4 separate regions of the Homo sapiens genome follow, and regions 2, 3 and 4 are each reported to be linked to region 1. The links are microRNA targets in miRTarBase. Many come from high-throughput screens and were not tested one by one. Region 1 holds a microRNA gene; each other region holds the end of a gene's coding sequence.
What was found. Region 1 holds the annotated microRNA hsa-miR-4423-5p (AGUUGCCUUUUUGUUCCCAUGC, at 1,193-1,214, opposite strand). A microRNA usually pairs through its seed, bases 2 to 8, with sites in the 3' UTR of a target mRNA and lowers its output. Matches are read on the target gene's strand: a 7mer-m8 pairs with bases 2 to 8, a 7mer-A1 pairs with bases 2 to 7 and ends in A, and an 8mer does both.

Region 2: miRTarBase lists DCTN6 as a target of hsa-miR-4423-5p. The part of its 3' UTR that is shown has no 7-base or 8-base seed match.
Region 3: the mRNA of UBE2G2 is a reported target of hsa-miR-4423-5p. Seed matches in the 3' UTR shown: 7mer-A1 at 1,480-1,486 and 7mer-A1 at 2,517-2,523.
Region 4: the mRNA of MOGAT3 is a reported target of hsa-miR-4423-5p. Seed matches in the 3' UTR shown: 7mer-A1 at 2,518-2,524, 7mer-A1 at 2,341-2,347 and 7mer-A1 at 2,014-2,020.

The regions. Positions count from the first base shown.
Region 1 is chr1:85,131,924-85,135,019 of GRCh38, reverse strand. It overlaps MIR4423 (microRNA 4423), which reads right to left and starts at 1,226; the gene lies at 1,147-1,226. It overlaps DNAI3 (dynein axonemal intermediate chain 3), which reads right to left. Exons shown (of 23, transcript NM_145172.5): 23 at 1,882-2,165. The coding sequence ends at 2,022.
Region 2 is chr8:30,182,703-30,185,798 of GRCh38, forward strand. DCTN6 (dynactin subunit 6) reads left to right here. Exons shown (of 7, transcript NM_006571.4): 7 at 373-937. The coding sequence ends at 471. Among named protein-coding and RNA genes, the nearest start is that of DCTN6-DT, 28 kb to the left of the region's middle.
Region 3 is chr21:44,768,843-44,771,938 of GRCh38, reverse strand. It overlaps UBE2G2 (ubiquitin conjugating enzyme E2 G2), which reads left to right. Exons shown (of 6, transcript NM_003343.6): 6 at 450-3,096. The coding sequence ends at 562. Among named protein-coding and RNA genes, the nearest start is that of UBE2G2, 31 kb to the left of the region's middle. RefSeq lists an enhancer at 2,414-2,914.
Region 4 is chr7:101,193,237-101,196,332 of GRCh38, forward strand. It overlaps MOGAT3 (monoacylglycerol O-acyltransferase 3), which reads right to left. Exons shown (of 7, transcript NM_178176.4): 6 at 2,951-3,096; 7 at 1,771-2,864. The coding sequence ends at 2,710. Among named protein-coding and RNA genes, the nearest start is that of MOGAT3, 6.3 kb to the right of the region's middle. RefSeq lists an enhancer at 2,435-2,935.

The DNA.
Region 1 (3,096 bases):
CAGGCATTGGGAACATACTCTGAGTGATCATACTATGAGGTTGAGGAAGGATTCTGGGCAGAAGGATGACAGCATCTGACAGCATCCATTTAAAACTACCATCTGGCTGTGGCTGAAAGTGACTGAAAATGACAACATAGAAACAGGGAGAACAGGAGGCTGCTGCAAAATCCAAGCTGATGATGATGCAGCTTGGACCATGGTGGTAGCAGTGAGGGAGAAGAGAAGCGATCAGGTTTCACATGCATACTGAACGTGTAGTCAACAGGACTTGCTGACAGATTGGATGTGGATTGTGAAAGAAAGGAGATGAAGGATGACCTTAAGGCTTTTGCCCCAAGCAGCATCATGGCTGGGAGGACTGCTGGAGGAATGGTTTTTGAAGGGAAACATCAAGCACTCAATTTTGGACATGTTTAAGTTTGAGATGCCTATTAAACATCCAAGTGGAGATACAAAAGGTCAAATAGATACACATCTCTTGATTTTAGAGAGAAGGCCAGGTCAGGGACAGAGGTAGTATCTAAAGCCTTGAGAGTGGATGCATGCACCTAGAAAGTGAGTGCAGAAAAAAGAAAGAATAAAAGAAGTTCAAGTGTAAGGATGAGCCCTGGGATATTTCAATCATGATGACAATAATATGTGCCAGGCACAGGCCCCTTATCTGCAGGGGCTCATTTGCCCCTTACATAAATGCTGCAAGTTAAGTTCTCTCAACCTGACTTGATGGAAGGGGAATCTGTTTCACAGAGCTGGGTCATCTGTTCAAGGGCACACAGGTGGTTAAGAGCTAAAATCTATCCGACAAAGTTTTCTTTCCTCTAGCAATCTAACTTATAAACCTTGGTATTATCCTTTGTCTTCCCTTCCCCATCCAACCAGCCTTTGATTTCTATCTTCACATTAAGCTTTAGTACAGGGCATCCTAATCCTTTGCCCTGAACAATTCCTCCTGCCTCCTAATAGGATTTCTTGCCATGAGACTCTCCCCTGCTCTAGTTCATTCCTTGTTTCCTAAAAATAAAGCTGATTGGGTCAACTTCCTGTTTAGACCTTCCATTCATTCCCCATAAATTCTAATCCAGCTCCTTAGCTTGGTAAACAGGAGCCTTCACAATCTGGCTCCAAGCTCTTTTGTGTCTCAGTTTCACATACTGTTGTTGCTTTTTGGTGCCTATGCTAGGCTTAAACAGCATGGGAACAAAAAGGCAACTGCAGTACATGATGTCAGGCACCTGATGGTGTGAGCTGTGTCTTGTTCCACATCTCAGGGGAAAGCTTTCTGCTTGTCACCATGAAGTACCATGTTTGGTGTAGTATTGTTTTACACGCCCTTCATCACATTACAGGAATTCTTTCTGTAGATGCCAAGAATGTATCATTATTATCATGAATTGATGTCAACTTTTATGAAATGTTTTTCTGCATCGACTTGGCATCATAATTTCTCTCTTTTGATTAATCACTGATTTATTTTCTACTCTTAAATTAACCTTATCTTCCTTGGATAAACCCAACTTTGTCTTCATGTGTTAACCTCTTTAAAATATATATATATATATATTTCTGGATTTGATTTGCTAATATTTTGTTTAGCACATGGCCCTACAGTTTGTACAGTGGCCAAGGGGAAGCACTTTTTTTGGAAAGGTGGCCAAAAGCAAGCTGATAAGTAGGAGCAGTTTGATTTCCCCTTCTGCCTGGAATGAGGGCCTCTGTGTGGACAGCAAGGATTGGGATGGAAGGGACATCCAAAGTTCTCTATTATTATAGGAAAATACAAATTTTGTTATTGAAAACATTCATTAAAAAAGAACACTTTCATATTCAGTACAAAATTTGGTACATACATGGTACAAAAACTGAAATAGATCTCATTGCTAAAATTCAAAAGTTTTAATAGCAGGGAAATAAAAGTCTATAAATGAGCCTATATATATATATGTTCAGCATGCCAGTTCACCTGACATAAAAATAAATAGAGGGAAGAAGTCCCCAAAACACCCCTTCAGGAAGCTTTTTTACATCACCTCCATGTATGACCCCTTCTCTGTGACTTTGATTAGGCCAAGGTTGATAAGAACAGTCTTTTCCAGTTCCAGATAACTCTCATAGTCCATTTTTAATTCAGCCTGCATTTGTTCTTTTGACTTCTGATATGTTTTCTGGGGGGGGAAGAAAAACAAGACATCCCTATAAAACACTGATATCTAAAAATACCAAAGGATGAGAAGGGGCTGTTTGTGAATAGTTGACCTGGCTGCTGTTTTCTGGAAAGGGCTGGATGGAGGGCAGGAAGGCAGGAGGGCAGGTGGGCAGGAGGCAGTCAGATGTGCTGGGAAAGGAGGGAGTGGGGGGAAACATGGTCCCCAACCACTGTCTCTCAAAAAAAAGTCCCTTTTTCCGGCCTTCTTCCCTATAACTCTTGTTTCCCTTATGTAGACTGGAGGGTGACTAATAGCCTAGAGGTTGCAGAATTCTTTTGAAATCCCCCTCTTCTGAGTCCATATGGATGGCATAGCTTGTGGATCACACGGCAATGACTACTGTCCCAGGCTGAGTCTCCAGCTGAAATTCTGGTTAGGAAAATTCCCATTTCATATGCAACTAGAGCAGTGATTATTATTGTCCATTGAGGAGTGAGCTGTTTCCAGATTTTATGTTTGCAAAGAGACAGGTGCATGATTTTCCTGAAATCTGTGTTGAACTGTACAGCCTCAACCTGGCACCTGGTGAGCACTCACACAGGCCAGCCTTGCTGGACGAACATGTGAACACTTTCTATGTGCCAGTTATTGGCTAAGTGCTGTAAATATTTTAACTCATTTAAGCTCCATTGCAATCTTCTGAGGTTGTTACTGTTGCCATTTCCCCCTTTATCAGCCGTTGCTTAGAAGGAGACATTTCTGACTAACATTAGTTGTTTTTCCTTAGTGACTTTTTTTATGTTCTCAATGTAACAGAGGAACCCTTTCAAATTCATTCACATACCCACAATCTATTCATAGTTGCAGAGAAAATTTGAGAAGTGGTGGCTTTACTTAAAAGAGGGCACCATATCAAATGGAAATAAAGTTACAAGAAGTTGGGAACGTT
Region 2 (3,096 bases), not on the chromosome of region 1:
TTTTCTTTGAGACAGGGTCTGGCTCTGTCACCCAGGCTGGAGTGCAGTGGTGTAATCATGGCTCACTGCAGCCTCAACCTCCTGGGCTCAAACAATCCACCTGCACCCCTGCCGCCCTGCTTCCACCTCAGCCTCCTGAGTAGCTATGACTACAGGGGTGTGCCACCACACACAGCTAATTTTTAAATTTTTTTAGTGACAAGATCTCCCTATGTTGCTCAGGCTGTTCTGGAACTCCTGAGCTCAAATCATCCTCCTGTCTGGGCCTCCCAAAGTGCTGAGATTACAGGCATGACCCACCACGCCTGGTTGCTGTGTGGTACTCTTGACTTTGCTTTCTGCCAATCGGCCTTAATTACCTTATCTTTTTAGCCCCAGACACTACAGCTGGATTTCTTGATGAAAATCTTGCCAAATTACCACCACCTAAAGAAGACTATGAAAGGAAGCTCAACTCCAGTAAAGAACTAAGAACAGTGTATAACATGAAGATAACATTTTGTCTTTGACCACTGTCTTTTGAATGGGCCCACAGTGTTTATGTACTCTTAACAACTCACAGAATAATACATGTTCACTTTATTTTGTAAAATTGGGTTGAGAGGAAACTAATGGAGTTTCATTGTAACTGTCCTTTGTAATTTATATAAATGTATTATTTTCCTATATCCTTGGTTCTTTTCTGATAATTTACAGATTTAGCTTTTCTTTTGTTATATAAACTGCTAGCCACAAATTTTAGTTATGTAAAAGGCTACCCTTGACAAGAAAAGACATACTGTCATGTATTTATATTCTAGCATAGACTAAACTGAATAAAAATGCTGATAACAGGACCTTTAGTAAGCATACTTTAATCAGTTTTTCTCCTTGAATTAATCTTTTCTCTTAATTTTTATTATGTACTAGTTGTATTAAAGCTAATGTGTTTACTTTTTCCTCTTGTGGATTTGTAGCTGTTTAAAATTTCAGGTGAATTTCAGTAGCTATTGAATTAATTTAGACTTCACTTTGTTTTTAAGAAAAGTACAATTTTTTCTTTTTGGTAAAACAAAAGTAATCAGGGAAAGATGTTTTCAGTAGAATACAAATTAGTGGCATTCTTGGGTTTCTGAGGACAATGAAACTAAAAGAAATTTTGAAATTATACAAATTTATGAAATTATTAATATTTTAGCATAGTGCTAATCACTAATCATTGAGCTTTATTATTCTGTTGTCTATGTAGTGAGCAAAATGTTGAGAATTTTATAATTCCAAATTTTTAAAATAATTCAAGTGCATAAATTTACTGGAACATACTTCTCAACTTTTGAATTAGTAGATATTGACTAATACTAAGATACTAAAATACTAAGATATTCTCTCAAAATTTAATTTTTATTTATTTATTTTAGAGACAAGGATCTCACTCTATTACCTAGGCTGGAGTGCAGTGGCACAGTCTGCTCACATGGATCACTTGACCTCCTCAAACTCAAGTGATCCTCCCGCCTCAGCCTCTTGAGTAGTTGGGACTATAGGCATAAGCCACCATGCCTAGCTTTTTTATTTTTTTTAACTTTTTGTGGAGACAGGATCTCGCTGTGTTGCCCAGGCTGGTCTCAAACTCCTGACTCAAAATTTAATTTTTAATTGTGAATAGAAAAAAATATATTTTTGAATTTCTGAAACTGACAGTGCAAATTAGCGTAATCATTCGAAATTGGAATGATTTTGGTAAGAATACTCATGACTAAACTTGGAAAACTATACTGTAGCAGATGAAACATTGAGCTTTTGAAAAGGAGAACATAAATACCCTATTTCTGTTAACTGCTATTTATTCATTTTTCAACCCCCTGGTGATCAGTTCAGAATGTTGTTGATCATGGAAATTTTCTAGATAAAAGAAATGAGAAATTACAAGACAGTCTTTGAAATTCTTTACTGGTTCTAATGTATTCTCTTTGGACAGGCTCTGATATGCTAAGTAAATGGCCTCTCCAAACTACACAGGTACTATGTGGGGCAGCAGTGAGATACCTTCTAAGGACTTGATAAGAAGAAACCACCAGAGAGTCTACACATAGTGAGGAGAGTCTCAATGCTTCCCAGGTACACTGTAGGTTATTACATGATATTAACTCATTTGAGAAAAGAAAACCGAAATTATCAACTCACCAAAATGGGGTTTGAAGAAACAAAATATGACAGTGTGTATACAGTGTTATCCGTGAAAAGGAAGTCCTGCATCCAAGAGATGTGAGTAATTCAGTGACCAAAAGTGTTCTCTACTTCAGTTAGGACTAGTTTATCAAGACCCAAGGTATGTGGCTTAGGGAGAACATACCTTGAGACTTGCCACTTCTTTTGGCACTAATTACAAGCCTAACTGAACCATCTTCTGATTGTTGATATGGCCTTTTAAGCTATTGTTGTTCAGGAAAAGGGAGAATTCTGCATGAGGGCACCAACATTTCATTCTGCACATAGTAAATTTAGAGAAATTCTCTGGTTTATATGTCAGTCTCATGTGAATTTTGTGTGTGTGGTTCTGCCCCCAAGTTTGTCAGTTTAGCCTATGAGTTTCTAAATATTCTGATGAAACATAGTTTCTGATTCTTCAGGATAGAGAACCAAAGCCCGGACAGATTATTGCAAACTTCACTCTTTGGGGCTTCTGCATAGCCAGGCTGTCAGCCTTCTTCTAGTGGCACTCTATCTCACTTGAGACTACACTCAAACTGCATCCCAAATATTCTAGACAAATAAGCTAAGTGGTAAGGAGAACCCAGACATCCATGTGACATGAGGTAGTAACTGGGCAGGGAAAAGAGAGAAACCATTTTATCAAATCATCTTATTGCAATCTGGCACTAGCTCTTCGGGCAAGATGATGGATCTTCACCAGTTGAACAGTGTAAGGTCTAGAAACAGTGATGAAACTTCACTTCATCCATAAGCACACACTGTAGTAGTTATGTATGCTGTGTAACAAATTACCCCCAAAACTAAAACAACACACATCTTATTAGCTCACTCAGTTTCTGAGAATCAAGAATCTGTGTGTGGCTTAGCTGATGCTGGGGCTGCAGTATTCATTTCCAAGATGGC
Region 3 (3,096 bases), not on the chromosome of region 1:
AGGAGCTGTGAGGGGCAGTTTTGCTGAGAGGGCGCTCTGTGAGAGAGAAGCCACACTGCAGAGTGTCTTGAGAAAGGTGAAATAAGCAGCAGGTGGTCCCCGTGTAGCTTGTCCGGGTGCCAGAAGTGCAGTGGCCCAGGAGGCTGCTGTGGGAGGCCGTGTGGGCCTGTGCTTAGGTGGTTGTCGCATGTTCCACAGCAAGACAGATGACAACTTGTCCTGGTGTCTTCAGACACTCAGAACGCAGGAGTCATGAGAGTGGCTTTCGTTGAGACCTGCGTGGCCAGCACTCTAGAGGTGGGGCCGACCCCATGCAGTTCTCAGGTTCTTTGTTTCTGGGACACAGCTCTTGAAAGCCCCCGCCAGTGTTTTAAATAAATGGGAGACCTTGCCAGGCTGCTTACGTATAAGACTCCCTTTTACATGGAGGGTGTTCCCTTTTCTTTCAGAGCCCAATGACGAAAGTGGAGCTAACGTGGATGCGTCCAAAATGTGGCGCGATGACCGGGAGCAGTTCTATAAGATTGCCAAGCAGATCGTCCAGAAGTCTCTGGGACTGTGAGACCTGGCCTCGCACAGGCGCGCACACACCGCCAAGCAGCTCAGCATTCTCCCCCGGCACACTTAGTGACAGTGATGCTCTGTGCTGGTACCAAACAAGGCAGACTTGCAAGAACCATGGCATCTTTTTTTTTTTTCAAACCTTTCCTACTTCAAACAGGCTTCTCTTCTGAAATGATGACTTAATGTCGAATATTGACAGCTTACTGCAGTTTTACAGTATTCCTCACAAAGGGCTTCAGGTAGATTATCAGAGCTGTCAGCACTACCTCTCCCCGCTGAAACCAGCAGTTCATGGCTTCCTGTGGATTCCCTCCCTCCCTGGAGTGTTGAGGGGGTTGTACCTGCCAGACTTCCAGGGGACGATGGAATACCCAGAACGCTCCTTCTGAAGAAATGGGGCCCTGTAGCTGCAGCACAGGGGAAGGGCCCGGCACCCTTTCTGGGTCCTTCCTGGTTCCCTGTGGGCCCCATGAGGAGTCCATTACTTCCTTTCTTCCTTCATATTTTACAGGCAGATGCTTTTCTTATAATCTAATTACATCTTTTCATTTGTTATATATTACAAACCATCACACTTAGAAATACTTCCAGGAAATGCTTTTTTGAAGTGTGAATTAATAAGAAATGGGGTAAATAGAAAAGAAATTTATTGCTGATTGGCCAGGTGCGGTGGTTCGTGCCTGTAATCCCAGCTCTTTGGGAGGCCAAGGCAGGTAGATCACAAGGTCAGGAAATTGAGACCATCCTGGCTAATACAGTGAAACCCCATGTCTGCTAAAATTACAAAAAATTAGCTGGGCGTGGTGGTGCACGCCTGTAGTCTCAGCTACTCAGGAGGCTGAGGCAGGAGAATCGCTTGAACCCGGGAGGCAGAGGTAGCAGTGAGCTGAAGTCCCGCCACTGCACTCCAGCCTGGGCAACAGAGCGAGACTCAGTCTCAAAAAGAAAAAAGAAATTTATTGCTGATCACAAGGACAGACAGTTTTTTCCCGACCATACTCATCAAAGATTTACGTTTGTATATTAGTAACTAGTGCATTACTAGAGCAGGTGCAGGTGAGGTCTTTAAAGTTTCAATGAAAGTTTCTTCTGGATCTACAGAAAAAATTTTTTTTTTTCAATCTAAAAACTGGAAATTCTAGGGTTTTTGTACATTTTGGATGCACTGGGAATTTATTAGCACAAAATCATTCTTTGCAACTCAAAATTCAGAAGGGACTCTACCATATCTTAGCTCAGAGCACAGAGGAGTGCCTTATCCCCACACTTGACTGGGCTGTGGAGGTGGGCATGTGGGCCCCTGGGCCCAGGCTGGGGACAGAGCCCTTGTTTTGTGACTTAGGATTTTGATGTGGTTCCCATGTTCTCTAACAGGGCCAGCTGAGCAGCACAGGCCAGGAGGCCACAGTGTAAGCAATAACAGATCTGCCACATGCAGAAGCAAATATCAGGCCTGTCGCACACGGGCGGCATTTAAATAGGAATTTCTATTTTTGAAATAAGGGATGGTCTATGAGGCATACAGTAGATTTGATGTGATCCTTTTCTCCCTCCCTTCCATAATGGATCGTGGTCTGTGTGACTGAACCCACACAGAGTGTCATGGGTGACAGTTTCTGGTTGAAGTAGCTCCACGCCTGGCTTCTGTGGACAGCAGATTCTTTTCCTTCTCACAAGGGGCTCATTTAAAATTTGGAGGCTGGGTGCTGTGGCTCACGCCTGCAATCCCAGCACTTTGGGAGACTGAGGCGGGCGGATCATGAGGTCAGGAGATCGCGACCATCCTGGCTAACAGTGAAACCCTGTCTCCACTAAAAATACAAAAAATTAGCCGGGCGTGGTGGCGGGCGCCTGTAGTCCCAGCTACTCTGAAGACTGAGGCAGGAGAATGGCGTGAACCCAGGAGGCGGAGCTTGCAGTGAGCTGAGATCACGCCACTGCACTCCAGCCTGGGCAACAGAGTGAGACTCTGTCTCAAAAAAAAAAAAAAAAAAAATGGAACGCAGGGCAAGAACTCGTATTTGGAAGGAGATGGGGGAAAGGAGCGGTATTATACCTATGTTGTATTTGCAGGCAAATGAGATGGAGCCCTCTCTGTAAAGAAGAGTCATTTGTGCAAGTAGACGGGGTCTGTGGGTGCAGGCCCTGGAGGGGCACACAATTGCCTGGAGGCTTCTGTGAGATCGGGAGAGGGAGGAGAGGCAGTCTCTTGACAAAATAAAGTATTTTTATTCATTTGTATTTATTAAATGAAAAAACAATCCCATGGTGTCCCTGTTGTGTGGTGGAACCTAATGACTGTTGAAATAAAGTTCTGTGTTTTCCCTGCCCTGCAGTGTGTGTCCCTTTGTCGTATTGTCAGAGGAGCCTGTGGCCACTGCCCCCAGGGAGCACACCAGATCATCCCAGCTGGGATTCCTCACGGTGGGGGCTTTTCTGCAGACTTGGGTTAGCTCTGGCATGTTTTCTTCTGTTTCTGATCTCCCTTCTGTCATTCTGTGGTCTTCCTCTGGAATTCTCAGGTTAGTTGGG
Region 4 (3,096 bases), not on the chromosome of region 1:
TACTACCATACCCCGCCCATCCCCAGTGTCTGGAAAATGTGCCCACTGGAGAAATCTATTGGCCGGATTGTGACTGGTTGGATGCTCCCACGGCAGGAAAGGGGGAAGGACAAGTGGCCACGTCGAGGCCTGCCTGAACTCCAAGGGTATCCAGGCCGAGGTTGCTCAAACCCAGAGCTGATTTATTTTTATTTTTATTTGTTTTTATTTTTTGACACAGTCTTACTCTGTCGCCCAGGCTGGAGTGCAGCGGTGCAATCTCGGCTCACTGCAACCTCCGCCTCCGGGTTCAAGCGATTCTCCTGCCTCAATCTCTGGAGTAGTTGGGATTACAGACACCTGCCACTACGCCCAGCTAATTTTTGTATTTTTGGTAGAGACGGGGTTCACTATGTTGGCCAGGCTGGTCTTGAACTCCTGGTCTTAGGTGATCCTCCTGCCTCGGCCTCCTAAAGTGCTGGGCTTACAGGCATGAGCCACCATGCCTGGCCTGAACGAAACATTTCTATGCTCCAACTTAAAATGAATGTAGAACTTATTATCTGAGAATGACCCAGGGAAGTCATGGGACTGCCCATATTTTCATGCAATAAAGGGAAAATTCTTCCCACAAATAAATTTTATAGGACGGTAGAAGCAAATATAGGGCATTCCAATTACATTTCAATGAGTTATTCTTGATGAAGTCCTGGATACACAAAGCCAGCCAGCAAATAGGATTGACCAAAGTCAGAGGATGCTGTGACCACCCCAGGGCTCTTTTTGTTTGTCTGTTTGAGACGGGTCTCGCTTCGTTACCCAGGCTGGAGTGCCGTGGCACGATCTCGGCTCACTGCACCCTTGACCTCCTAGGCTTAAGAGAGTCTCCCACCTCTACCTCCCAAGTAGCTGGGATGACAATCATAAGCCACCACACCTGGCTAATTTCTAGAATTTTTTTTTTCATTTTTTTCATTTTTTTTTCTTTTTAGCCGGAGTTTCACTCTTGTTGCCCAGGCTGGAGTGCAATGGTGCGATCTTGGCTCAACACAACCTCCGCCTCCCGTGTTCAAGCAATTCTCCTGCCTCAGCCTCCTGAGTAGCTGGGTCTACAGGAGAGCACCACCACGCCCAGCTAATTTTTGTATTTTTAGTAGAGACGGGGTTTCACCATGTTGGCCATGATGGTCTTGATCTCTTGACCTCGTGATCCACCTGCCTCAGCCTCCCAAAGTGCTGGGATTATAGGTGTGAGCCACAGCAGCCGGCCATAGGACATAAGCTTTTTTTTTTTTTTTTTTTTTTGAGACGGAGTCTGGCTCTGTCTCCCATGTTGGAGTGCAGTGGCACAATCTCGGTTCACTGCAAGCTCCGCCTCACGGGTTCACGCCATTCTCCTGCCTCAACCTCTCAGTAGCTGGGACTACAGGCGCCCGCCACCATGCCTGGTTAAGTTTTTGTATTTTTAGTAGAGACGGGGTTTCACCTTGTTAGCCAGGATGGTCTCGATCTCCTGACCTCGTGATCCGCCCGCCTCAGCCTCCCAAAGTGCTGGGATTACAGGCGTGAGCCACCGCGCCCAGCCTCAGCTGTGTTCTTAACTCTATTTTTCCTTCACTGGGGATGGTACCATTTCCCCGTCCTGTTAAGTGCCCTTGACTGCTCTTACCTTTAGCTCTTGGAATTCCGCCATCTACCCTAACTTCACCTCCATCTAAATCCTGCTCACTCTTCAAAGCCTGCCTCTCCACGCATCCTCCCTCCTAACTCCATCCCAATGCCCAACAGCTCTTTGCTAAGCAGATGCCTTTATTTACAGACAAAGAAGTAAACAGGCAAAAGGAAGAGGCTTGTCCAAGGTCATGCCACAGACTGAACTCTCACTGGGAGGACAGTTCAGGGTCCTGATACCCAATCTAAGGCAGCAGCTTTGTAGCACATCAGGATGGGGGCAGGTCATGCCTGGCCATGTTCACTTCCAGAACGATTATAGCTTTAACAACATTTTTTTTTTTTTGAGATGGAATCTCGCTCTGTTGCCCAGACTGGAGTGCAGTGGTGTGATCTCGGCTCACTGCAACCTCTGCCTCCTGGGTTCAAGCGATTCTCCTGCCTCAGCCTCCGGAGTAGCTGGGATTATAGGCATGAGCCACCATGCCCGGCTAATTTTTGTAGTTTTAGTAGAGAGGGGGTTTTGCCATTTTGGCCAGGCTGGTCTTGAACTCCTGACCTCAGTTGATCCACCTGCCTCGGCTTCCCAAAGTGTTGGGATTATGGGCATGAGCCACCACGCCCAGCCTACTACAGCTTTAACAGTCTTTTTTTTTTTTTTTTTTTTTTTTTTGAGATTGAGTCTCGCTGTGTTGCCCAGGCTGGAGTACTGTGGTGTGATCTCAGCTCACTGCAACCTCCGCCTCCTGGGTTTAAGCAAGTCTCCTGCCTCAGCCTCCCAAATAGCTGGGATTACAGGCACATGCCACCATGCCCGGCTAATTAACAACATTATTTTTTAATTTTTGTAGAAATGAAGTCTCACTGTGTTGCCCAGGCTGGTCTTCAACTCCTGGGCTCAAACGATCCTCCCACCTTGGCCTCCCAAAGTGCTGGGATTACAGGCATGAGGCACTGCGCTGGGCCCAGAACTACCTTTTATTGGAGGCATGGAGTCCACAGTGGGTGGAGGTCTCAGTGCCTTGGGCTCAGGGGCTCAGCGAAAGGCCGCGGCCAGGCCTAGATGAAGGTGAGGCAGGTGGAAGCGGGGACCCCACAGCTTTCCTTGTGCTCCTCGAAGAGCTGCTCCAGGGCCGTCATGTAGAGGGCGTGATAGTGATTGACTTCCTCCTCGGTGGGGTGGAGGCGCTGGGGGACGGGGATGGGGCGGCCCACTGCAGGGAGAGGGAGACAGGTGGGCGAGGGATCCCTGATGCCCACGCAGCTGCTGGTGGCCGTCCCCCCGGAGGTGGGCACTCACCCACAGTGGTGATGGGCACAGCAAAGGGCAGCAGGCCCCAGGAGGTGGCTGAGAAGAGACCGCGACCCCAGAAGATGCAAGGAGAGAAGCCCATGAGCTTCTTGAAGGTGAGCTGGCACCAATGCTGCCAGGAGCCTGTGGCAAAA